Linked DNA regions of Homo sapiens: region 2 is linked to region 1. The links come from fine-mapping of genetic effects on gene expression. A gene starts in region 1. The other region holds a variant in brackets. All regions are shown on one strand. Distances are between the middles of the regions.

Region 1 (16,840 bases):
GCTCTGAGCGTGCGCTCAACTGCACTCACCCTCCGGTTCCAAGGCCCTCACGGCCCGGGCGCCCCCGCCCACAGCCCTCTGACAGGTGGCTCCGCTTGTCTTCGCTGCTGCACCAGGGGGCGGGGACTCCACCTTTGCGGTCCCGAGTGAAGCTACTCAACCTTTTAAAAAAAACATCCACGGACGGGACGCGATGGCTCACGCCTCAAATCCCAGCACTTTGGGAGGCCGAGGTGGGAGGATCGCTTGAAGCCTGGAGTTCAAGACCAGCCTGGGCGTCATAGTGAGACCCCTGATCTCTACAATAATAATAATAATAAAATGTAAAAAGTCCTCAACTTTTCCGGCACAGCACAGGAAAGGTTAACGCCGGGAAGAAAAAATAACCTTTCATTTTCTTGCAGGGGAAGGTTCAAAACGCCCAGCATGTGACTTTATCTTTGGGGTTCACTGTTTTCTTTTCTGAAACCTAGGCTCCTGGTTTGGGCAGGGGGTGGTGGTGCGTGCAAAGAAGGAAAGGTCATGAAAGCTAGGTAGAGTCTTTCAAATAGAAGGTGAGAATATGGCACCCGAACTGAGAACTGCAGGAAGACCTAGCTTCTAGTGACCTTGAGCAAGCAAGGCATAACTTCTCTGGAGTCAGTGTTCTCGTGTGTGTGTGTGTGTGTGTGTGTGTGTGAGTGTGAGATGGAGTCTCGCTCTGTCGCCCAGGCTGGAGTGCAGTGGCGTGATCTCGGCTCACTGCAACTTCTGCCTCCCCGGTTCAAGCGGTTTTCCTGCCTCAGCCTCCTGAGTAGCTGGGATTACAGGCGTCCACCACCACGCCCGGCTAATTTTTGTATTTTTAGTAGACACGGGGTTTCACCATCTTGGCCAGGCTGGTCTTGAACTCCTGATCTCAGGTGATCTGCCCGCCTCGGCCTCCCAAAGTGCTGGGATTACAGGTGTGAGCCACCCCTGAACTCAGAGCCATACTCTGAACTCAGTGTTCTTATCTGTAAAAAAGTGGTGGAGTTCTGATTTCTAATCCAAGTGTAAGCCCTTTGAGGGCAGGGGCTTTGTCTGATTCATGGTGAGTTTTAGTATATGGTAGGCACTCAAATTATTGAATGAACAAGCACCCAACAACTCTCTTGGAGTTGGGACTGTGGAATTATAGGTCCAGTGGGAGCTTCCAAGAAGGGCAGAGCTGGCTTTTTCCCCTTTCATTTTTTTTTTTTAACATTAGTGAAAAAAAAAAGTGAAGTTGTTTTTAGTTTTTTTCTAACTTTCCTACTGATCTAATATAGCACTTACAATGTGCTAGGTACTGTTGTAAGGGTTTTACAAATACTAACCCATGTAATACAACCATCAGAGGAATAGAGACTATTATGTCTAGTTTAAAGATGAGAGAATTGAGGGAGAGAGGGGAGAGGACTCTTACCCAGGGTCACATAGTTAATAATTGGGGAGGTGGGATTAGGACCTAAACAGTTTAGCTCTAGAGTCCACGCTCTTACCCGCTTGGTTATATAAGATTAAAACATTTAACAATAATAGTTAACATCCTCAGAGTGTTAAAAGAGGGAATATTAGAGTAGAAATGAAGTCTCTAAATTTAAAGCAGCAGGATAGTTTAACTGTAAAACCACAAGTGACTAAGTTGAAAATAAACCATGAGACACATGTTATCTTATTATTATACAATTCATTCCTGTTTACATGCATTCGCACTAGTATTGACTGTAGCAATACTAGTTAGCTAGGACTCATTTTTAAAGCAATATTGACTTTTTAAATTTTACACGTATATAGAATGCATGGATGTATTCTCTTCGTATCATTATATGTGATACAATATATACAATGTATATATTGTATATGCATATACAATATAATATATATAATGCATATAAATTAATGTCTAATAAATCATACATTAATTTATGTTACAATCAAGCTGGCCCAGGAGTTTGAGATCAGTCTGGGCAACATAATGAGATCCCTATCTCTATAAAAAATGAATTTAACCAAGCATGGTGCAGTACACCTCTAGTCCCAGCTACCAGGGAGGCTGAAGTGGGAAGATTGCTTGAGCCTAGACGGTGGAAGCTGAAGTGAACTGTGCTTGTACCACTGCACTCCAGTTTAGGCCATGGAGTGAGAACCTTGTATCACAAACAAACAAATAAACCAGGAGTGCAAATGAAGACTTGGACTAGGTTATTCTCTAAAGAAGAGGGCAACCTTGCTGGTGGCAGCCAGAATGATCAGGCTAAGAGCAAAAATGAAATGAGGATGGTTGAAAGGATACAGCCATAAAGGAGTGTAATAGGCTGTGTGTTTAGAATAGAGGAGAGAATTGAGTATGGACTTGTAAATGGTGTGGATTCAGACTATGAGAACCATATTGACTATGTGAAGGCAAGAGGTGATCTTGAAGCGATAGTGTCAAAGTTACAGCATGAGATGGCTGTGCTAGCTTCTTACATATCAGCCTATGGCTTTGGGAAAATCACTTAACCTCTCCAAACCTCAATTTCCTCATTCATAGAATGAGGATAAAACAGCATAAGGACTGGTGAGAGGAAAAAATACACATGTAAAAAAAGCACAGCATCTAATAACTCCTCAAAATATGTTAGTTTTTACCTTTTTTTTTTTTTGAGATAGAGTCTCGTTCTATCACCCAGTCTGGAGTGCAGTGGCATGATCTCAGCCTCCTGGGTTCAAGTGATTCTCATGCCTCAGCCTCCTGAGCAGCTGGGATTACAGGCTGGCTAATTTTTGTATTTTACGTCTGGCTAATTTTTGTATTTTTAGTAGAGATGGGGTTTTGCCATGTTGGTCAGGCTGGTCTCGAACTCCTGGCCTCAAGTGATCCACCCGCCTTGGCCTCCCAAAGTGTTGGGATTACAGGTATGAGCCACCGAACCCAGCTAGTTGTTACTGTTATTGCTGCAGAAAAGACCTTGCTTCTCCAGTGACCATAAGGGAAGATGGTAATACAGAGGCTTGGATTGGAGGTAGAAGCAAAGGGAGCTAGCAGAATAGGAGAATTAGGTTGCCTCTTTCTGGCCTTTGGTTGGGGCACTCTTTAAAAAAGTGCCAGATCCAAGAGCCCAGGGGGCTGGCTGTGAGTGCCCTCATGTGGATCAGCTATGGTCAGACTGCTTCACGCCTGTGACCTGCCCTGTATAAATATACTGCCATGTATAAATAATGGCCCCATATATATGTAATCTGGAAGGATAAACATCAAGCTTAACACTGGCAACCTGCAGGGAGGGAAGTGGAATTGGGTGTGTATGTGTGTGTGTGTTTGAGAACCTGTATTTTATTACTCCGCACGTCTTTATTGTTTGATTTTTTTCATAATGAGAATGAGTTTGTGTGTTGGGTAAAAAAAAGAAAAAGAAAAAAACCCCACTAAAATCAATCTAATTACAAAAGAAGATGAATTAAAGAAAAGTACCGAGAGAAACTGCTTGTGATCCAAGTCCTGGCTCCCTAATGCCTGGCTGAAGCCCAGCCCACAAAGAGAACACTGGGTTAAAGGTCCTGGAGAAAAGATGGGAAAGGTTTGGTGTCTATGTGGTGTCTGCTAGCCCCATAAGGGTAAGGCACCTGGTAGACGGTTCCCAGCTTAATGGGAACTGCTCCTGTTTTCCAGGCACACAGTTCAGGGCTGGAAAAGTTCAACAAGTGCATGGAACATCGGAAACCTCCTGAAAATGCTAAATTTGCCCCGAGATGTCCCGAAGTCCGGCATATTTCTCTGGGCAGCCTAGAGGCTCAGGAGCCCAGCCCAGCCCAGCCCACCGTGCCCTCTCAGCCAGCCCTTCTTTGCCTTCAGCAGCCCTCCCTCTTCCTGAGTAGTGGCCCTTTGCAGGCCTGCGTCCCAGCCCCGCCCCTCTCTCTGGACGCATCTCTGGGCCCCATCATCACCCGGCGCCGGGCCCTCCCTCTGCCCCCCCCTTTCTCCTCCCTCCTTCCTTCCCTCCCTTCCTCCCTCTCTCCCTCCCTCCCAGCTCCTGCACCAGGAAACGGCCCGGATCCCGGCAGCGGCCTGACCCGTGAGATCCCTAACCTGGCAGGCGGGCGGGGTTGGAGACTGGCTGAGGTGGGGGTAAGGGAGGAGCTGGGCCTTTGGGCTGCACTAGGGGGAACCGGGAATAGAGATGGTGTCGGCAGGAAGCCCTTGGCCTTGGGTTTCCCGGGAGGACAGTCATTAAACATGGATTCGGCCACACAGCTGGTAGAGCGTTGGGGGCAGGGGCCTAGGCCCAGAGCTGCAACCCTAGCCCTTCCCAGGCCAGAACCTGATCCCTGGCCTTCCCCTCCTGGTTCTGATCTCCCCCTCCCCTTTCCAGGGCTCCACGCTGGCCAGGAGGATGAAAGGCCCCAGCTGGGGGCTCCTTGCCACCAGTGCTGTGTCTTAAGAGCTGCCATCCCGGCTGGGTGAGTGTCTCCTTCCTTTCTCTGTCTGGAGTAACCCATTGCGTCTCCCACCTTTCTCTTCAGCCCATCTGCTCCCCCTCATCTTGTGTCTCTGCCAACATCTTTACATCTTGCATTTGGGGAGGTCCTAAGACCCTTCCTCTAGCCAAGAAGGTGTGGACTAAGGAGACCCGGGGGTGGGGGTGTTGTAGGGGTGTCATTGAGCTGACGTTGTCTTATTGTGAAAAGAATCTAAAGTATCCTAAACAGAAAATTTACTTGTTTTACATTTAATTTGGCATATTAGGAATGTAATGGCCAGCCACTCACAGCCTAGTCTCATATCATGACTTAATTCCCTTGTTCTTGCCTCTCCCTGTCCAGTGAGTCCTGAGCATTTCCTCTCTCCTCCTCATCTCACTGGGTTGGTCAAACCAGAAGTGCTCCTTCTGATTCTCTCTTCATATATTCATGCCAGTCTTTCATCCTTGCCTCTTATAGCCGCCCGGATGGCGACCCCAGCCTCGGCCCCAGACACACGGGCTCTGGTGGCAGACTTTGTAGGTTATAAGCTGAGGCAGAAGGGTTATGTCTGTGGAGCTGGCCCCGGGGAGGGCCCAGCAGCTGACCCGCTGCACCAAGCCATGCGGGCAGCTGGAGATGAGTTCGAGACCCGCTTCCGGCGCACCTTCTCTGATCTGGCGGCTCAGCTGCATGTGACCCCAGGCTCAGCCCAACAACGCTTCACCCAGGTCTCCGATGAACTTTTTCAAGGGGGCCCCAACTGGGGCCGCCTTGTAGCCTTCTTTGTCTTTGGGGCTGCACTGTGTGCTGAGAGTGTCAACAAGGAGATGGAACCACTGGTGGGACAAGTGCAGGAGTGGATGGTGGCCTACCTGGAGACGCAGCTGGCTGACTGGATCCACAGCAGTGGGGGCTGGGTAAGAAGCTTCTCAATTGCCGCTCTGCACATCCTTCTGCAAAGCTGGTCTCCAGGGGGAAGATGGGGGCTCTGATTGGAGGCTGAGGCAGCTATGTTGGGAATGAGGTACGGGGCTGAGTCTCCCCGTCTGGATGGAATTAGATTGAGAGATGCCTGGACTCTGCACTCCAGGGCTGCCATGCAGTCAACACTGGATGGGCTCATGGTCCCAAGCAGAGGACAGAATACACACCCAAGGAGTGCCTGCAGGGGAATGTTGTCAGGGACTTTTTACATCTGAGTCATGGCGTGGGAGGTGGGGAGGACCAGGGATGGGTGGTGGTCAGGCAAGCCTTGGCAAAGGATGCTAGTTCTGAGCAGAATTTTTCGCCAAGGAAAGGATGGAATTCACTGGAGGCAGAGTGGGCAGATGAACCAGTCTCTCAGGGTGGGGGTGCACCTGGGGGGATCAGAGGGGCTTGCAGGGAGAAGAGCTTTGGCCAGAGAGGAGCTGGGTATGGGGTAGTGCTCGCAGTGGATGGAACTGGAACTCTTCCTCTCCTCTTCTCTCCACTCTTTCCTCTCCTGATATCCCTTTCTCCTTCTTTCTCTCCTGCTTCCCTTCTCTCCCACAGGCGGAGTTCACAGCTCTATACGGGGACGGGGCCCTGGAGGAGGCGCGGCGTCTGCGGGAGGGGAACTGGGCATCAGTGAGGACAGTGCTGACGGGGGCCGTGGCACTGGGGGCCCTGGTAACTGTAGGGGCCTTTTTTGCTAGCAAGTGAAAGTCCAGGGCCAGGTGGGGCTAGGTGTGGCTGGGGGCCAGGAGAGCAGGAACAGAACAGAGAAATGCCCTTGGAAGAAGTGGAGTTGGTGGATGGGTGGGCATGGAACAGGATGGGCAGAGAAAGGGTAGTGTGTGAGGGAGCTGAGTAGGCCAGGTAGGCGATTGGAAGAGTGAGCAGGACACAGAGGGGAGGGGAATGTTTTGGCAAGTTTAGGGGCACAGGAGATGTAGTCGTTCCAGGGCTGGGGGAGGTGGGAGGGATCACGCCTATAGGTGTGGGCACATGAAACGACCTGGAACTTGCTTCACAGCCCTGAGGAAGGTGGACTTACATAAGCAGCTGTATTCCATTAGATGAGTGGGATTTAGGGAACGCAGAAGGCACATCCCTTTGGAATGGAAGCTTAGGGGTTCTCAGGTGATAGGGAGAGGTGGCTGTTAACAGTGGGCTGCTTGGACACGCGTGTGCATGTGCACGCATGCTGGTGTGCATGCTGGGCTGCCTGGCAAATCTGGTGGTGATGGGATTCCTCAAGGAGAAAACATTCCCTCTTGCAATGGCAAGAACTAGGGGCAGTTCTCTGTCCCTCCTCCCAACCCCTCCTTTCCCCTGCCCTTGTCCTGATGCCTCAAGGCTTAGAGAGAAACATTGTATCCAGACCGAGGGCTCTGCTGCTTCTTTCCAGAAAGTGATTGGCAAGGCTTTGGAGAGAAGAGCAGTTCTGCAGCTGGCCTTGTTCCTTCATCATCCCCCTTCCTTGTGCATTATGCACTTGCTGCTGCCTCCTGGGCTCTGATAGAAGGGCAGGGCTGTTGAGCCTGGATGGGTGGAGGCTTAGGTAGCCGGACCTGCCTGCCACCCTCCTCTCCCACTCAGGCACAATGGTGCCTAAAGTGTTTCCAATCTCTGGGACCTCTGTACCCAAACTGAAACTCTAAATTGGGGCCCTAACTAATTTTCCTTTTGAGGTTGTGGGCATAAGTGCTGATCTAGAATACAGTCTGGGTCCCACACTGTGTCTCAGTGAGACTGTTGATGCCTTGAGATGACCATTTCAGATCTGAATCCCATGGGTGTGAGGGTGATGGGTACTCCAGGACTGGCCTATGCTGTGTTGTGGGCTTTGGTTCGGCTTTATCAGGGGCCAGGCATATGGGTTCTAGAGTACCTACCATGACCTAGAAGCATTTATGATTTATTTGAAGCCACACTGTTTGCATGGGTGTTACTTGTCTGTACCTCAGAGTCTGAGGATGTTAACTTTGGAACTCGCAGTCCTCTAGAACAGCTTCAGATTATGGCTTTTTCTTTTGAGGAAGAAATTATTCACTCCAGATGCATGCCCTGAGCCAGACCTCACTGCTGCACTTTCCAAGGTGCTAAGATTGCTGCTCTCCAATGCTAACTTTCTGACACAGTGCTCTAGAACCCTGCCTGTGGTCCTGAGCACTGATCACCTTAGCTAGACCATGGTTGACTCTTCTTGGAGATTTTCACTTGGTCCTAGAATGTGGCAACGTAGTTGTGCTCGCCAGAACGTGGGACCAAATTGGCCTCAGGTGTTGAGTCCAGACTTCTGCTTTTGAGAGAGGGCTGCACTTTTTCATGGTATTTCTAGGGGAGGTGGTAGGCTGCATGTGCCACTTGGTCTTGTTGTGAGTATGCTGACACCAGAAACTCAGAGCCAGCTTGTGGCAAGCAGTTGGGGTGGGGGGTCTCTGACTTGCTCAGGACAAACTAGGCCAGTGGTTTTCAAACTGCTTGGCAGAGCCCTGAAGTTTCCTAGGGGTTGCCTCAGGAGTCCTTGGGGAGATGAAGGGGGTGGGGAGCTGAGCAGGCTGGGCAATTTGCCCTCAAACAGAACAGCTCCCCTTGTAGCTGTCTTACATATTGGGGTTCAGGGTAAGATTTTATTTGCATTAAGGGGTTTGCTGCTGAAAAAAAGTTGGAAAACCACTGACTAGACCATCGGCTCCAAATTGGAGTCTGTGCTTCCTTCCCCAGGTATGGAGCACACTCTTCACCCTACCCTCTACCACAGGACACATATCCCTGTTAGCATTCCCCGGGACCTTTAGCCAAGAGGAGCTGCAGGGACCATGGCCAGGTTACCAAAATGCCCTGCTCTGAAGCCTTGACACCTGGGTGGAAAGAGAGGCTGTTTTCTGAAAGGGTAAAGGGCTTGGTCTGGATTCCCAGAAGCATAGCTTAGATGGGACCACAGTGGGCAATTTTGACCTGTCCTGCCCTTCTTAGCTTGAAGGGAAACCCCAGAGACTCTTCTGTCAGGGAAAACTAGGGACTCTCTTCTAGAGCCATATAGTTCCTTGGGATTAGCTCTTGGCCAAGAAGGCTGAGTATGGTTCCCAATTTTTAAATCCATTTCATTTTTTAAAAAATAAGGGAAATAAATGTAATTGCCATTTTTCAAAGATTAAGTAGGAGGAGAGGGGTTTCTTGCTCTCCAGAGCCCAAAGGGACAAATAGGGACTTTGTTTAGGCCAAGGAAGGAGCGGAAGTAGGGCAACTCGGTCCTGCGATTATTAATCCCACTCCCCACTTATTCTAGGGCACACAAACACTATTTTACTTTTTTAAAATCATAAAACGGCAGAACAGATTTGGTTAGTTTAGAAGAAAAGAAAGCTCTATAAATATAAATCTATATTCCTGTATTTTTATTTAATAATTTATAAATACCAAGTTCATTTGACTTTTATTTTTGTGTAATATGTAATGATCGTATTAAAAACAATAAATAAAGCCCAGAAGTTTAATGAGAAGGACTGAACAGGGTTTGTGACTTCTACACTGTATAGCCTGGGGTCAGGACATTTCCTTGATCCAATCATCTCTTCATGACCTTGTTAAAGGCAAGAATTAGAATAACAGGGATTTGAGAAAGTGTTGGGATCATTAAGAAAAAAAGAGTCTTTCCCCCATCCTCACCCCACTCCTATACCAGCCAAATGGTCAAAGCCAAGAATTCCTTCTATTTCAACCTGAGCCTTGGGAGGGTGTGTGTATATGGTACTCTGGGACTGCCACTAACAATAACCAAATGAGAAACAAAGAAAACCTACCAAAAATCTTTGTGTGATAGTAATCAAGCCCCCAGTTGTGGTTCAGGCTCTAATCAGAAGTGTGTGATAATAATGAACATTTCTCCATGGTGCCTTCCTGCCTACCTCAGACTTAAAAATAGGTCTGGGCCAGGTGCGGTGGCTCACACCTCTAATCCCAGCACTTTGGGAGGCCGAGGCGGGCAGATCACTTGAGGTCAGGAGTTCGAGACCAGCCTGGCCAATATGGGGAAACCCTGTCTCTACTAAAAATACAAAAATTAGCCGGGCATGGTGGTGCGTGCCTGTAATCCCAGCTACTCAGGAGGCTGAGGCATGAGGATCACTTGAACCTAGAAGGTGGAGTTTGCAGTGAGCCAAGATCGAGCCACTGTACTCCAGCCTGGGTGACAGAGGGAGACTCTATCTCAAACAACAAACAAACAAAAAATAAGGCAAGGCGGAGTCTGGCAAAAATGGGAGTCCCTGCTTCCTTTGCTGGTCCTGTGAGACATTTGGTTTCAGCCATTTTAATGCAAATTGATAAACTGGATGGAATTTCTAAGAATATTCAGCTCATCCTTCTCTACCTCTAATCTTGGACCACATCAAAATCATGTTAACTGAAACAGTGATCCTAATTTTAAATTTCAGGTGGGAATTTCTAGCCTTTCTGTAATCCAGTGCAATAGACTGGTACTTGGGTTTATGTGTTAAATTGCAAGAAATATAATTGTTTAGAGGAATCCAGCATTCTCTTTCTATTCTTTATACAAAAGTCTACAGGGGAAACCATATTAAAATCAGAGAGTGGCTTAGTGAATATGGCACTATGGGAAAGGAAATTAGATGTTCTTAATAGTTAATATCATCAAGTATGATAGCTGGTGTATTTATCTCCACTGTTGTGTGATTGATTTAATGATTGATTTGCATTTGCCTAGTTCCAAAAAATATTTGCAATATCTTACTATAATACACAAAATAATAGGAAAACATAAATTTTTTAAGTTGGGTTGAATTTCAAGTCAAGGTTAAGTAAAAAAAATAAGTAGGGGTAAAGGGAAAATTGAAATAAGATGGCGGCAAAAGGAAAATTAATGCACAGAAAAACATTCTATAAGTAGCATTTCCAAATACTAAAGCTAGGCTGTGAATTCAGCTGTGAGCTTCTTGGTGGCTAAAGCAAATTAAAATACAGAATGAAATTCACATTCCTCTTAGGATTTATAAAAGCCTATCAGTTACTCAAGAGGGGCAAAAAAAATTTTGTGGCTTTTCTAAGAAGACAATGATATAGTGGACACCACCTTCTGTGACATCTAAAAGCAAATATGATGTTGAGTTTTGACCACTGTTTCTTCTAAAAACACCAAATGGAGATTCAGAAGGTCCTAAGCGAGAAATAACACTGGTGGAGAACTGTATGAAGGAAATATAATCCATCTATCGCTTTAGATAGCCCAAAATTTAATCCTGTATTAAACCAAATCATCATAGAGCAGCATATTTGGGCTAAATTGTGATGAACCTAGTAGAACACACTTAGGACCTTCTGAATCTATTAGAAGGTCCTAAGTGTGTTAGGACAAATGACACCTTCAATAAAGTTGGGCAACACTTAGTTACAATTATTAGTAAATGGATAGATTGTAGATATTCTGTGTTGTTACTTTTTTAAATTTTTATTTATTTATTTATTTTGAGATGGAATCTCGCTGTGTTGCCCAGGCTGGAGTGCAGTGGCGCGATCTCGGTTCACTGCAACCTCCACCTCCCGGGTTCACTCCATTCTCTTGCCTCAGCCTCCCGAGTAGCTGGGACTACAGGCGCCCGCCACCACGCCCGGCTAATTTTTTGTATTTTTAGTAGAGACGGGGTTTCACCGTGTTAGCCAGGATGGTTACCATCTCCTGACCTCGTGATCCGCCCGCCTCGGCCTCCCAATGTGCTGGGATTACAGGCGTAAGCCACCGCGCCCGGCCCTCTGTGTTGTAACTTAATAGCAAATCCTTTGAAGACTTTAAAAGCTGCTTTAAGGCTGGGCGCGGTGGCTCACGCCTGTAATCCCAGCACTTTGTGAGGCCGAGGCGGGCGGATCACGAGGTCAGGATCACAAGGTCAGGAGATCGTGACGGTCCTGGCTAACACAGTGAAACCCCGTCTCTACTAAAAATACAAAAATTAGTTGGGTGTGGTGGCGCAGTCCCTGTAGTCCCAGCTACTTGGGAGGCTGAGGCAGGAGAATCGATTGAACCCGGGAGACGGAGGTTGCAGGGAGCCGAGATGGCGCCACTGCACTCCAGACTGGCGACAGAGTGAGACTCCGTCTCAAAAAAAATAAAAATAAAAAATAAAATAAAATAAAATAAAATTTGCCTTAAATGTAGATACAGGAGAAATACAGAAATAAATCGACTATTTTGAAACTCAGCAGAAAATACACCATAATGAAATGCTGTGTAGTTTATTCAGTCAGTCATTTATGCAGCAAATATTCAAGCATCATCTGTGTGCTAAGCACAGTTACAGGCTCTGAGGTAGAGTGAACAGACAGATGCAAATCTCTGTTCTCATGTTGCTTATATTATAGTAAAAGAAACAGAAAACTTAACAATTATGTAATATGTGAGAAGGCGATGAATACCATAAAGAAAAATAATTCATTGAGGGGAATGTGTGTGTATATATACACACGTAAGAGTTCAATTTTAAATTGAGTGGTCAGAGAAGGCCTCATTTCTAGGGTGACTTTTGGGTAAAACTATGACAAACAAAATTGGAAAAATATATTTATTGACATGGGAAGATGTTTGTCTTTTTTTTTTAATTGGGTAAAAAAAGAAAATAGATTAGAAAATAATATATACAGTATGATCCCATTTTGCTAAAATATTTATATCTGTGTGCCTTGATATATATTTGCATATTGAAACTTTCAGGAAGTATATATGCCAAAATATCATTAGTGATTGTCTCTGGATAGTGGGCTTTATGAGTGCTTTTATTTTGTTCTTTTTGCTGTCAGTATTTTCTGATTCTTTGACAATGAACATATATTTCCAGATATTTCCAGTACAGTATATGAAAACAAGTTCTTTAGGTACAAAATTTTTAAAAAGTTAACGAAGCAGGATGGAAATTAAGCAGCCCAACAGAGGGTCCTTCACATTTAAATGGCTACCCCACTTCCATGCAAAGGCAAACTTAGGGAGCCAAGGTAAGCAGGACCAGACCACATTAGAAGATTATTGAGGTCTGCTCCAAGACAGAGGTCAGTAAAGGAGAAAGACTCCATGGTTCTACATCAGCACTGTCCAATAGAAATATAATGCAAGCCACATGTAGTTTTACATTTTCTAGTAACCTCATTTAAAATGCAAAAAGAAATTATTAAACCAATTTTAATATTTTATTTAGCCCAGTATATAAAAATATTATCATTTCAACATGGAATTAATATTAAACAGTTATTAATGAATTATGTCACATTCTGTTTTTCATACTAAGTCTTCAAAATTCAGTGTGTATTCAACACTTAGCACATCTCAAGTTGGACTACTCATGTTTCAAGTGGTCAGTAGCCATGTGTGACTAGTGGCTATCATATTAAAGTGTAGCTCTAGATCATAGGTCATTATTATAGTCTGTAAAAATTTCAAAGTAGTTCCAGATCATAGAGCATTATTGTAGTCTGTAAAAATTTCAAGAAAGGAGATAAAAATAGGGATGAAACTACCAAGACGTCAAATATTTATGTCGTTTGGGGAGAAAACTTTTCTGGGAAGAACTATGAATGCCCTCACCCATTTTTACTACTTAATTCTCCTTTTCTTAACTCCACTGAGCCATTCCCTTCTTCTTCTTCTTTTTTTTTTTTTTTTTTGAGATCGCCCAGGCTGGAGTGCAGTGGCGCGATCTCGGCTCACTGCAACCTCTGCATCCCGGGTTCAATTGATTCTCCTGCCTCAGCCTCCCGAGTAGCTGGGACTACAGGCGCAGGTCACCACGCCCAGCTAATTTTTGTATTTTTAGTTGAGACGGGGTTTCACCATGTTGGCCAGGATGGTCTTGATCTCCTGACCTCGTGATCCACCCACCTCGGTCTCCCAAAGTGCTGGAATTACAGGCGTGAGCCACTGCGCCCGGCCGATTCCCTTTTATTAATACATTTTCCCGTCTTCTGGGGCACAGTATCATTGGAGTTTCACTTTTTCCAAAACTCCATGGTCCTTTGTTTATAGGTTATTACTTAGAGAGAATTATAATGGGTGAATCTCACACCATTACATACCAAATTTCAAAAAATTCATTCTCAGAGGAAAACTTATCTCTTTGATATTCTCTATGCATCAACAACAGGCAGGATAATAAATACGAGTATTCATTCATTTATTTTTTTACTTTTTTAAAAAAATAAGATTATTCATTACTGAAGATGACTCATTCAGTTATCATTTACTGAGCACAGAGTGATAGGCAAAGGGAACACAAATATAAGATGGTTCCCTGTCTTTTACAGTTTATAGACTAATAGGGAAGGATCTTACAAGTCACCATTCAAAAAGCTTTTTTTTTTTTTTGAGACAGTCTCACTCTGCTGCCCAGACTGGAGTGCAGTGGCACGATCTCGGCTCACTGCAACCTCCGCCTCACGGGTTCAAGTCATTCTCGTGCCTCAGCCTGCTGAGTAGCTGGGATTACAGGCGCACGCCACCATGCCCAGCTAATTTTTGTATTTTTAGTAGAGACGGGGTTTCGCCATGTTGGCCAGGCTGGTCTCGAACTCCTGACCTCAGGTGATTTACCCTCCTCGGCCTCCCAAAGTGCTGGGATTACAGGCATGAGTCATCGCACCTGTCCCTCAAATAGCCTTTTAAATATGTTTGCTTTTTTCTTTTTTTGAGACAGGGTCCTACTCTGTTGCTGAGGCTGGAGTATTGTGGCATGATCATAGCTCACTGCAGCCTGGAACCCCTGGGTTCAAGTGATCCTTCTGTCTCAGCGTCTGGATTAGCTGGGACTATGCCACCACACTCAGCTAATGTGTTTGTTTCTTTCATAAGGTAATTATGCCTAGTAGAAGAAGTTTGAAAGTTGGAGTGATTTTTTAAAAATAAATATGTAATGGGCTGGACATGGTGTCTCATGCCTGTAATCCCAACACTTTGGGAGGCTGAGTTGGGCAGATGGCTTGAGCCCCAGGAGTTTGAGACAAGCCTAAGCAACATAGTGAGACCTTGTCTCCACAAAAATAGAAAAAATTAGCTGGGCATAGTGGTGCACACCTGTAGTCCCAGCCACTTCGGAAGCTGAGGAGGGAGGATTGCTTGAGCCAGGAGTTTGAGGGTGTGGTCGGCTGTGATCATGCCACTGTATTCCAGCCTGGGCGACAACGACCCTGTCTCAAACAACAAAGGCAGCAAAATAAACAAGTAAATAAATAAATAATGATTGTGGAAAATTTGTAGAACATAGAAAATTATAAAGAAAATGAATCATAATGCTGTCACCCAGAGACAATTACTATTTTGGTATACTTCTTTCTAGTATTTGTTTGTCTGCTTTTATGATCATGCAATTTTGTATACGCAATTCTGCTTACCATTATATTGCAAGCATTTTTTCTTGATGTTAAAATGTTTCAAAGTCATAATGACTATATACAATTACTTCTACTTGTGTACAGTAATTTTAATGCCCACTTGGTCCTTTATCTGTATTTTTTCACTTTGATAAAAATACTTATTCTGGCTGGGCATTGTGGCTCACGCCTGTAATTCCAGCACTTTGGGAGGCTGAGGCGGGCTGATCACCTGAGTTCAGGAGTTCGAGACCACCGTGGGCAATATGGTAAAACCCCATCTCTACTAAAATACAAAAAATTAGCTGGGCTTGGTGGTGGTGCGCCTGTAGTACCAGATACTTAGGAGGCTGAGGCACAAGAATCGCTTGAGCCCTGGAGGTGGAGGTTGCAGTGAGCTGAGATTACGCCACTGCACTCCAGCTTGGTTGGGCTATGGAGTGAGACTCTGTCTCAAAAAAAACAAAACAAAAACAAACAAACAAAAAATATTTATTCACAAATTGGATTACATTTTTAGAAGAGATAAGAAATAGGATTACTGGGTTAAGAATCTCAACTTTTTTTTTTTTTTTTTGGAGAGAGTCTCCCTCTGTCACCCAGGCTGGAATATAGTGTCGCGATCTTGGCTCACTGCAACCTCCACCTCCCAGGTTCAAGCCTTTCTCCTGCCTCAGCCTCCTGACTAGCTGGGATTACAGGCGCCCACCACCACACCCAGTTAATTTTTGTACTTTTAGTAGAGACAGGGTTTCACCATTTTGGCCAGGCTGGTCTCGAACTCCTGACCTTAGGTGATCCACCTGCCTTGGCCTCCCAAAGTGCTGGGATTACAGGCCGTGAGCCACCTCACCTGGCTCTTTTTTTTTTTTTTTTTTTGAGACAGGGTCTCACTCTGTTGCCAGTCTGAAGTGCACGTAGCACCAATTATGGTTCACTGTAGCCTCAGCCTCCCAAGTAGCTGGGCAGGGACTACAGGCACACGCCACTTTGCCCAGCTAATTTTTGTATTTTTAGTGGAGAATGGGTTTTGCCATATTGCCCAGGCTGGTTTTGAACTCCTGGACTCAAGCAATCTGGCTCCCAAAGTGTTGTGAGCCACTCCGCCTGGCCTTAAGAATCTCACCATTTTAAAAGCTTTTGATATATACTGCCAAAGAATAGAAAGATTGTACTGGTTCTTGCTCCTTTTTTCCTCCCATGCCTAAGTTTTTAAAAAAAATCAGATATAGTTGTAATTATATATTATGTACAATTTTACATTCTTCTTTGGCTTAACAAAATTATTTTCGCATGTTTGTCATACTATGTAACCCTTTTAAGAGATGCATAATAATTTTTTTTGGATATAATTATAGTTTGCTTAAACTTTTGTTTATTGTTGGAATTTAGTCTTGCCATTTTTCACACATAATTTTTATGTATTAAAGCAGGCCTTATAGTAGTAGTGATCTGAGCTTTGAAAGCTGGCTTTGAATTCCCTGCACATTATTATATATATTACATAATATATATTATGTATAATATATATATAATTTTTATTTTTTCCTTTGAGACAGAGTCTTGCTGTTGCCCAGGCGATTCTCCTGCCTCAGCCTCCCGAGCAGCTGGGTTTACAGGCATGTACCACCATGCCCAGCTAATTTTTGTATTTTTAGTAGAGATGGGGTTTCGCCATGTTGGCCAGGCTGGTCTGAAACTCCTGGGCTCAGGTGATCCTCCCGCCACAGCCTCCCAAAGAGCTGGGATAACAGGTGTGAGCCACCACGCCCAGCCAGCCCTGCACACTTCTAATTAGTCCAATGACTTAGGCAAGTTTCTTCATTTCATTAAGCCTTTTTCTTTTTCCCTAAAAAAGGTTATGGTTTTGGAAATACTTTCCCCGTGGGGTTGTTGTGAGAGTCCAGTGAAATAATAAGGAGTGGTGCTTATTACAAAATCAAACGCTCAACAAAAATAGGATTCAAAGCCATTTTTAAAAATCACATTTCCTTTTGTTGGCTTGATTAAATTGGGTACCAATAAGATTAACAAATCTTGATTAGGTTAAGATTAGTATAAA
Region 2 (9,206 bases), 69 kb after region 1:
CGGCCCCGTGTGATGGGCTAGCCGGACCTGCTGGAGGCTGGTCCCTTTTTGGGAAACCTGGAGCCAGGTGTACAACCACTTGCCATGAAGGGCCAGGATGCCCAGATGCTTGGCCCCTGTGAAGTGCTGTCTGGAGCAGCAGGATCCCGGGACAGGATGGGGGGCTTTGGGGAAAGCCTGCACTTCTGCACATTTTGAAAAGAGCAGCTGCTGCTTAGGGCCGCCGGAAGCTGGTGTCCTGTCATTTTCTCTCAGGAAAGGTTTTCAAAGTTCTGCCCATTTCTGGAGGCCACCACTCCTGTCTCTTCCTCTTTTCCCATCCCCTGCTACCCTGGCCCAGCACAGGCACTTTCTAGATATTTCCCCCTTGCTGGAGAAGAAAGAGCCCCTGGTTTTATTTGTTTGTTTACTCATCACTCAGTGAGCATCTACTTTGGGTGCATTCTAGTGTAGTTACTAGTCTTTTGACATGGATGATTCTGAGGAGGAAGCTGTTATTGAATGTATAGAGATTTATCCAAATAAATATCTTTATTTAAAAATGGCCTAATCTGTATTTGGCATCCGTGGTGCCTGAACATCTCGCGGTCTCCCAGCCTGTCCCTTCTCCTTTCCACCATTGGCCCTCACCTCTGTCCACCCTGCCAGCTCTCTCCGCCCTCCAGAGTTTCCGCTGCACCCTCCCGTCCTCTCCCATCTCTGTCTCCCTGGCCCATCCCAAACACCAGGGTGGGGGCTAGGCCGCGCTCCCGGCATGCTGGAGAGACAGAGGCCCATTGAGGCATTGCAGCAGGCACAGAGCGCCCCCTTGTCCCCCAACAATCCGCCTTTGTCCTCCAGTCCTGGCTGCTGCAGCTTGGTCCTGGGGGTGCTGCCTGGGCTGGGCTCCAGCTCACACCCTCCCTAAAAGGAAATGGGAGAAAGGACCGGCCAAACAAGAGGGTTAAGGTTAGAGAAGGGGGACACAAATGTCTTCAGGCTTAGGTCCCTGGGGGCTCCCAGTCCTGCCCCTGTTCCTCTACTCACATCCCAGCTCCTCCCAGTTTCTTTTCGGACCTCCTCCTCTCCCCTTCCTTCTCTATTCCAGGCTGGGTTGGGCTCTAAGCAAGGGGAGGGATTAGAGCCTCCTTCCTCTCTGCCCCTCCCCATGGGTCTCTAGGGGGCTGGTGCAGGCAGCAGCAGAGGCACTCTGGGCAGCTGGGTGAGGGCCCATCTGGGCAAGGCCCCCAGCGCCTGCCTTCTCTCCCGGGGCCCTGTGGGCAAGCCTCCTGCTTCACTTTCAGGTTTCTCGAAGTGCCTTCTTGCTCCTGTCTGTTTCCCCATCCTGCCAGATTTCTGTTTCTCTTGCTGGGCTTTTGGCAGTAGGGGGCTGTGTTGGTGGGCCCTACGAAGATGCTCAGTGCTCGAGATCGCCGGGACCGGCACCCTGAGGAGGGGGTAGTTGCAGAGCTCCAGGGCTTCGCGGTGGACAAGGCCTTCCTCACCTCCCACAAGGGCATCCTGCTGGAAACCGAGCTGGTAACAGCTGCCTCCCAACCTGGTGCCTCCATCTCCCTGACCCCCGGCTCCTGGCCAGCCTTATGCCAGCCCCCAGCTCACCCTTCAGTAGCCTCCTTCCCCAAGCCCTCTGGACACCTCTCCTGCCCGCAGCTGCCCCTTCTTCGTCTCCTACTCTGCCTTCTTGCTGCCTCTCCACCCGGAGACATTTACAGCAGGTTTCAGTTGCAGCAGGAAGGACTGCAGTTAGACAGGGTGACTTTTTGGGACATTGAGGAAGCTTGAGACATAGGGATGGGACAGGGGCAATGACAGCCTCTAACATGGCCACTTCTCAGCACGTCCAAGAAGTCTAACTATCAAAAAGGGCAGACTTCCTGCAACTGCACTTTATCTGTGGTCTGCTGCCCAGAAACATCTCTTCTCAGGAAAGGATCTTCCCCTGGTTACTTAGCAAGACCACAGTGTAGAGTTAAGGCCTCTGCACGTATGCCACCCTAGGTCATCAGAGCTAAAGGGGCTCCCAGAAACCACTGGGCAGCATCTGCCTTCTCTCTTGGCATGGAATCAAAGGCTCTGGTCCTTGTCAGGGGGCTTTCAGGCATCTGGGGGTGGGGAAAGCATTATGAGGCAGGGGGCTCCTCTTGGTCCCTGTGGAGTCGGGTCTCTGTGGGCACAACTCCAGGGGCTGGCATTCACACTGTACCTATGAATTACTGTGGGATAGTGCTCCTGGGAGCCATATGGCTTGGCCAGACTGCTGGGGTTGCTGGGTGAGCAGAGTGGGAGGCCGGAGACTGCCCTTGACCGGCAAATGCCCTGCAACGGTGGCTCCTGACACCAGGGGATAGGGAGATGTGCCAGAGTCCTTCCTCCCCTCCAAGGACAGGTAGTAGGTGCCAGCCTAGGGGAGCTTCCAAGGAGGGGAAGGCAAAGCCCTGGCCCCTGCCTGTGTCCCCTTCTTGGCATGTTCCACATGCTCGGTCCTGCAGGCCCTGACCCTCATCATCTTCATCTGCTTCACGGCCTCCATCTCTGCCTACATGGCCGCGGCGCTACTGGAGTTCTTCATCACACTTGCCTTCCTCTTCCTCTATGCCACCCAGTACTACCAGCGCTTCGACCGAATTAACTGGCCCTGTCTGGTGAGGAACCCTGACCCCTAGCCCAGTTTGGGGCCCTTCCCTCTCCTCTAAATGATGCATTTTCCTTTCCTCCCCGAGCTTCTTTCCATTTCCACACCACAGCTGGGCTTTGTCCCATGCTATGCCCTGCACTCAAAGGTGTGCTTTGACTCACACTGATTTCACAGCTGCAGGGCCACGGGCAATCAGGAGGACCACATCCGCTAGATCTACTCTCCCACTCAGCAAAGGTCCAGCCCCAGCCCTGGCCTGGCTTGACCCCCCCGGGCTGGCATACTCCAGCCGCTGTCCCCTGGGTTCCAGCCCCAGCGCCTGGCTTCTGGTCCTGGTTGCTCTGGTTCATCTGCTTCCACTCCCTGGGTAGCAGTGTGAGCGCTCTGTCTCTTGAATGTGCTTCATATTGTGTGAGGGGTATCCTATGGAGGGGTTCAGAATCCCTCAGGGTCGGGCTGCTGGCTAGCCTGGAAAACTTCAGGGTAACGCCCCCTGCCTTCTGAGGTCCTGTTAACCCTGCACCCCTGGCCCCCAGGACTTCCTGCGCTGTGTCAGTGCCATCATCATCTTCCTGGTGGTCTCCTTTGCAGCTGTGACCTCCCGGGACGGAGCTGCCATTGCTGCTTTTGTGAGTTCAGCCCTGCAGGACTCCTTAGCCCCTCAAGAGCTCAGGCTGGTGCTTGCACACTTTCTGTATCAGAAGCCACAGCCAGGACTTGGGGTTCTGGCTTGCACCTCACCCTATACCTTAACCCAATGGCCCTATAGCCTCTGTTTTGCCATCCCCACTCCCACTCCCACAGGTTTTTGGCATCATCCTGGTTTCCATCTTTGCCTATGATGCCTTCAAGATCTACCGGACTGAGATGGCACCCGGGGCCAGCCAGGGTGAGTGCCTGTGCTCTGTGGAGAGGAGATGCCCTCCCCACCCTAGCTACCCATCCTGATGTGGGTCCCTACCTGGCTCTATCCTCACAGGGGACCAGCAGTGACTCTGGGGCTAC[C/G]TGGCTCCTAGGCCCAGCCAGCCAGAGAGGACAGTGGAGCCCAGACACGTCTCCTTGGGATTCACTAGCCCCCAGCCCGCCAAACCCCACCCCAGCCCTACACAGCAGTCTGGCCTGAGACGTCACTGGGGACTTATCTGTGGAGCCTGGTGCTCCAGGATGTGGCTTCTCATGAAGCTCTGGCCAGAGGAGGGGAACTTATTGGGGGAGGGGGGGTGGAGGGGAGGAATCTGGACCTCTAAGTCATTCCCAAATTAAAATATTCAAATTCTACTGGTGAGTCTCTTTCTTCCCCAGAAATTAGGCAGGTCAGGAATGTCAAGGAGTATTCATGGGAATGTTGCCAGAGCAGGTCGTGGTCTGTCTCTGGGACTGGGTCTGAGCAGTGAGGATGTGGGGGCTAGCCAGAAGAAGCTGAAGACATCCTCCAACACAAAACTTCTACGCTACACCTCTGTGTGCACGGCCACTTTGTGGTGTGCCTGGTGGCTGGGCATCTGGAGTTCTGTGTCTGAGAAGGCACAGCCTTCCTCATGGGAGCATGCATGCACCACCACACCTGTTCCCGCAGGTTAGTGGGCTGGAGGCCAGGCGCTCGCCTGGGGCGTGTGCAGAGCTCCCCCTTGTGGTGTGGGGAAGACTTGGCCCACAGGACGCAGGGAGAGGGCAGCCTGAGGTATCAGAGGAGGGAGAGATTTCCCAAAATGCGAATGCTGGGAGAGCCGTTGATTATCAGCTGGTCCAATGCCCTCATTTCACATAAGAGAAAACAGGCCCAGCCAGGGGAGGTGAACTCATTTGTGACAGAGCTAGGGCCAGAACGCAGCTCTTCTGACACCTAAGCGAGTGTTCTGGATACTGTACTGAGCCTCCTTGTAGCTCAGAAAAGAATGGCCAACTCTTCCCTCCACTGCGGGTCCACCCTCCCAGCTTGCCAGCTCCTCAGCACACATTTCCTGAGCATCTCCCATGCACACTGTGCTGGGTGCCAGGGCCTCAGAGGTGACGGGGGGCCTGCCCTTTAGCACTCACAGGCTGGGAAAGAGACAAGCTGGTCAAGAGCTCCCCACAGTGAATGCTATGGGAAGGCTCAGGGGAGTTTGGAGCAGACACTGCCACAGCCCGGGAGTCAGCCCTGCTGGGCCGAGACAGACAGATGTGCAGCCAGACGTTCCTGCCCAGCCCGAGGAGCCCAGCATGGCCTGGCTCAGCAGCTCCATCCCAGCTGACGTGCTATCTCCTGTCGCTGATGTGTGTGTGTTCCCGCCCTGAGATACAATCCTTCTTCTGGAGCGCTCCTTCCAGCTGCAGGCCCCAGCTCCCAAGTCCTGCCCGAACCCTGGATCTTGAACTCTGGTCAGAGCGCTCTGCTTCCTTGGTGGCAGCCACTCCTCTCTCTTGGTCTTTTTCCTGCCTCCTGCTTCCTGTTCTCCTATCCTTGTGTCCTGGCTCACCATCAGAACTGGCAGCCTCTCCTGGGCTAGAACCAACAGGATTTTGTGTTTCTCTGGTCACTGCTCACATTTCTCAGGGCTTTATGCACAGTCCATTCTCATGGTCTCAGAGGAGGGATAGAAGAGGCTCCACTTGGGGAGTCAGGGAGATGGGGTGCCAGGTGAACGGTTAAGGAGGCGGTCAGCAGAGCCTGGCTGCAAAGCCCAGTGGGGAGTGGGGATTTGCTTTGTGCAGAACGGGGTCAGGACCGGGCCTGTCCCACAAGCAGCTGTGTGATCCAGGCCAGACTGTCCCCAGTAGGAGCTTAGAGAGAGCAGAAATGTGACCACAGTGTTTCCCTGTACAGGCACCTGTGCCATCTGTGTCTGTGTGAGAACCAACATGAAATGAGCAATGCCCAGGCTTGGTCCTCATGGCATATTGGTTTGGGCTCAGTGTTGATTGGCCCCAGAGTCTCAAGATGCCCTCACGGTGAGGTGCTGAATCATAGGAGGCAGGGGGAGACCCCTGGGGAAGACAGGGAGGGGGCTCCCTGGGAGTTACTTCCTAGGGGCTGACTAGAATGGAATCTCTCCCATCTCCTTTCCCATACCTTAATTCTCAGCCAGCTCTGAGCCTTTTCTGGCATTGGTGGAAAATTCATTTCAGAAAGAATGGGTGTCCTAGGACACCTTTAATCATTGCAGCCTCAGGGGTGGGGTAGGTGGAGAGTGGCTTCAACTTCGGCACCAAAATTCTATCTCGTAGCATCTTGGACTGGCTCACCATTTTGATGCCATTGTTTTCTTCACTTTTGAAATTTCTCCCTCTCCACCCTTGTGTGGTTGACTGAGCAGAACTGGGACTCACAGCTGTCCACGTCAGGCAGAACACCTCACTCCTCTGCACCTCGGTCTCCTTCCTTGTGGATATGGGATGCCTTGGCTCTGGCAGCTCTGATACAGGGGCTGGGGGCCTCCCTCCTCTCAGGCCCCCTACTGCCCTGATCCAGGATGGACAGCTGGCAGGAAGGACAGATGGGCTCAGGCAGAGTTTGGCACTCATATTTATTACAGGTTGGCAAGAGTGAGGTTCCCGAGGCAGTGTCACTCCTCATCGTGCATTTTTTGCTGCAAAAAGAATAAGAGGTGTGAGGGGGCAGCTGGCAAGAGGGAGAAGTGTGTGGGGACAAATCCCTGGGGCTTTCAGAGGCCTAAGGGAGATGCCCTTGGAGGGAGAGGCAGGGCCCCAGGGATCCTGTGGTCCCACGTTAGAGGCACTTGTGGTTTAGGGGGATGGAACTGGGGATCTCTGCAGAAGTTCCAGTCAGTGGGGGGCTGTTTTGAGCAGGAGAGTGGATTCTCAGGTTATGTAAGCTATGGGACCCTCAGAACTGCCTACATATAGGGCAAGCAGTGCCCACTCTGAAGGGCACCCATATCAGGGGGCATGCTAATGTGGAAGTGACTAGTGAAGCCCAGGGGAGGGACCCACCTTGGCACCAATGTCACGGCTCTTGGCTCGAAGCTTGTTGACCTGGGACTCAGCGATGTCCGCCCGCTCCTCTGCCTCATCCAGCTCATGCTGCACCTTGCGGAACTTGGACAGGTTGGTGTTGGCTTGCTCCTCCTGTGGTGGGACAGTGGGGATGGGTGAATGAGCTGGAGATGGGCTATGGGATTCTCAGCCTCTCAACCTGAGGTTCCAGCTCCCTGTCCCTGAGGCACCCATACCTCATGCATATTCCTGCAACAGCCTTCCCAAGGGTATCCTGCAACTGCCTTGCACTCTTCTCAAACATGTCCAGCACTCAGAGTCCTTCACGGCCATCCACTGCCCCAGACAAATCCCATGCTGCCCGATCTGGGCCCCTTCAGAATCCTGTTTTGCTGCACCTGTCCCGGACCCCAGCTTCCTGTGCAGGCATGCTAATCAGCAACTCACATCCACCCAGATGTCTTCCCCACTGCCCTGTGGCTAGCTGGGTCCCCTTCTAGGCCCAATTCCACCGCCACCTTCCTGCCTTCAGCTTCGGCTGCCCCACGTCCTGCACTAGCATCTACACTGCCTTCTGTTGGGTTATGGTATCTGAATTGTAAGCAGCTTGTAGGTGGTGCCTTTGTTAATTCAGAACACCTGACAGCTCTGAGCATACCAGATGTGTCAAACAAATGTTTGAGAGTTAAAGTTTATAGCAAACTCTTTGTCCAGGCCCCTCTGTAGGAGATATTCATTGGTTCTCACAAATAGTAGGTGTGTTGATGAGAAAGGGAAGAAAGCTCTGAACTCACCGCCTCCTCGGCCTGGCGCTTGTAGGCCTTGACCTTCAGTTGCAGCTTGTCCACCAGGTCCTGTAGCCGCAGCAGGTTCTTTTTGTCTTCCTCTGTCTGGGGGTGGGAGGGTGGGAGAAGCTGGTTTGGAGGGGGAGCAAATGCAATCACCTTTCCCTCCTCCATCATTTTACTCTTCTCCCCTTGCCTTTGCTGCCCCTCCCTGCAATGATCCAGGTCAAAGAGGTGGTGGGGAAGATTCTCTGACTCTATCGTAGGTCAAAGGGGCAATGCAAGGTTGTCAGTCAGGGATCCACAGAGCAATGAAGGCTGAAGTCATAAAGCTAGAAGTAGGGGGAGGGGCTCAGAACCTAATGGAATTCCCTAATGTGGTAATATAAAAGCACCAGGTCTGTTCCAGCTCCAGTATGGTGGATAAAGCTCCAACCTGGACTTACATAGGTTCTCTTGGCCAGTAGTTCTTGACCAGAAAAAGAATGCAGAAAGAAGGGGGTATTATCATAATCCAGATTATTCTACATTCTAATATATTGTACTGGGCCAGAATTCAGGCATCGGGATCACTGGCTCCAACGTCACTCGATCATTCCTATCTCTTTATCATTGTATGTGCCAGGATGCCATTTCTACTTCTGTCCACAAATCACTCTGTGGTTCTGTATCTGTAACCTCTTTCTTGTGCCTCTGGTATCCATCTATCAAATGGACTGACACCCTCGTCTCCTTGGCCTTTTCTTCCCAGGTACACTGAAAATAACGGGCCAAGGGCACAGCTCTCAGCTATGCAAGTGGAGGTTTTAGAGCATTCTAGGGTCCTCTTTCTCTGTGGCCTTCTCTTTGTGTGCCAGAAGTTCTATGGAAGATTTCCGGGTCTTTTCCCCTCCCCTGACTCTTATCCCCACAGTCGAAGGTGGAAGGATTCTTTGAACTGTTCTGAAGTCTTCATGGTAGCACTTAGAGTTATTAAAAAAAAAAAAAAAGAAAGAAAGAAACCTGGGGAAAGACTAGTTAGAAGAGTTTTCAGGAAGTAGAAGTAGATTCTTCATTTGCTGGAAAAACTCATAGACTCAAGTCAAACTGACTGCAGAGCGTGAGAAGAACGTTAAATCTACCAACAGCATCTCAAGGAGGAGGTGAGAGGAGCCCTGTGAGGGCGGGGCAGTGGGGCCAGAGAAGAAACTTCCACATCTACTCCTGGTGTCTGGCGTCCGCCGCACCTGGTAGGTGAGCTCCTTGATGCGCCGCTCGCTCTTCCTCATGCCCTTCACCGACTCTGCGTTGCGCTTCTGCTCGGCCTCCAGCTCACCCTCCAGCTCCCGCACCCGCGCTTCCAGCTTCTGCAGCTGCTTCTTGCCTCCCTTGAGGGCGATCTGCTCGGCCTCGTCCAGCCGGTGCTGCAGGTCCTTAATGGTCTGCTCCATGTTCTTCTTCATGCGCTCCAGGTGGGCGCTGGTGTCCTGCTCCTTCTTCAGCTCCTCTGCCATCATGGCGGCCTGTGTGCAGGAGAGAGGTGGCAAGGAACATGGGCCAGGGGCCGGGGCCTTTTGCCCCCCAAGGATCTCCTTTCTCCCATCAGGCCCTCAAATCCACAGAACTGCAGAGTTGGCTTGGTGTTACAGCACAGTGGCCTGGCCTGGACCCAAGGCCTTGTTTCTGTCTTTAGGGGAGGCGGAAGGTGGGCGGTCACTTACATCCGTGATGGCCTTCTTGGCCTTCTCCTCGGCGTTTCTGCACTCCTGCACTGCCTCCTCCACTTCCGACTGGAGCTGGGTCAGATCCGACTCCATCTTCTTCTTCTGGTTGATGAGGCTGGTGTTCTAGACATGGAGAGAGAAAAATGA

Which allele goes with the higher level. Alleles are on the strand shown, and positions count from the first base shown. SD is a standard deviation of normalised expression in the study named.
For the expression in monocytes after interferon gamma of the gene that starts at base 3,997 in region 1, allele C in region 2 goes with a higher level than allele G (large effect, 1.2 SD a copy in Fairfax 2014).

What was found.
Region 2: its variant is fine-mapped to the expression of BCL2L2 in monocytes after interferon gamma (Fairfax 2014, PIP 0.95).

What each region holds. Positions count from the first base shown.
Region 1 is chr14:23,302,837-23,319,676 of GRCh38, forward strand. It overlaps BCL2L2 (BCL2 like 2), which reads left to right and starts at 3,997. Exons shown (of 4, transcript NM_004050.5): 1 at 3,997-4,058; 2 at 4,356-4,443; 3 at 4,924-5,363; 4 at 5,980-8,915. The coding sequence starts at 4,932. The coding sequence ends at 6,129. It overlaps BCL2L2-PABPN1 (BCL2L2-PABPN1 readthrough), which reads left to right and starts at 3,997. Exons shown (of 8, transcript NM_001387346.1): 1 at 3,997-4,058; 2 at 4,356-4,443; 3 at 4,924-5,363. The coding sequence starts at 4,932. PPP1R3E (protein phosphatase 1 regulatory subunit 3E) reads right to left here and starts at 23. Exons shown (of 5, transcript NM_001276318.2): 1 at 1-23. RefSeq lists an enhancer at 4,856-5,689.
Region 2 is chr14:23,375,860-23,385,065 of GRCh38, forward strand. IL25 (interleukin 25) reads left to right here. Exons shown (of 3, transcript NM_172314.2): 3 at 1-544. The coding sequence ends at 21. CMTM5 (CKLF like MARVEL transmembrane domain containing 5) reads left to right here and starts at 1,187. Exons shown (of 6, transcript NM_001288746.2): 1 at 1,187-1,518; 2 at 2,490-2,642; 3 at 2,810-3,010; 4 at 3,172-3,264; 5 at 3,440-3,524; 6 at 3,615-3,913. The coding sequence starts at 1,393. The coding sequence ends at 3,628. It overlaps MYH6 (myosin heavy chain 6), which reads right to left. Exons shown (of 39, transcript NM_002471.4): 35 at 9,057-9,182; 36 at 8,583-8,858; 37 at 7,366-7,461; 38 at 6,569-6,703; 39 at 6,128-6,204. The coding sequence ends at 6,181. RefSeq lists an enhancer at 4,136-4,205. The variant C/G (reference allele first, on the strand shown) is at 3,641.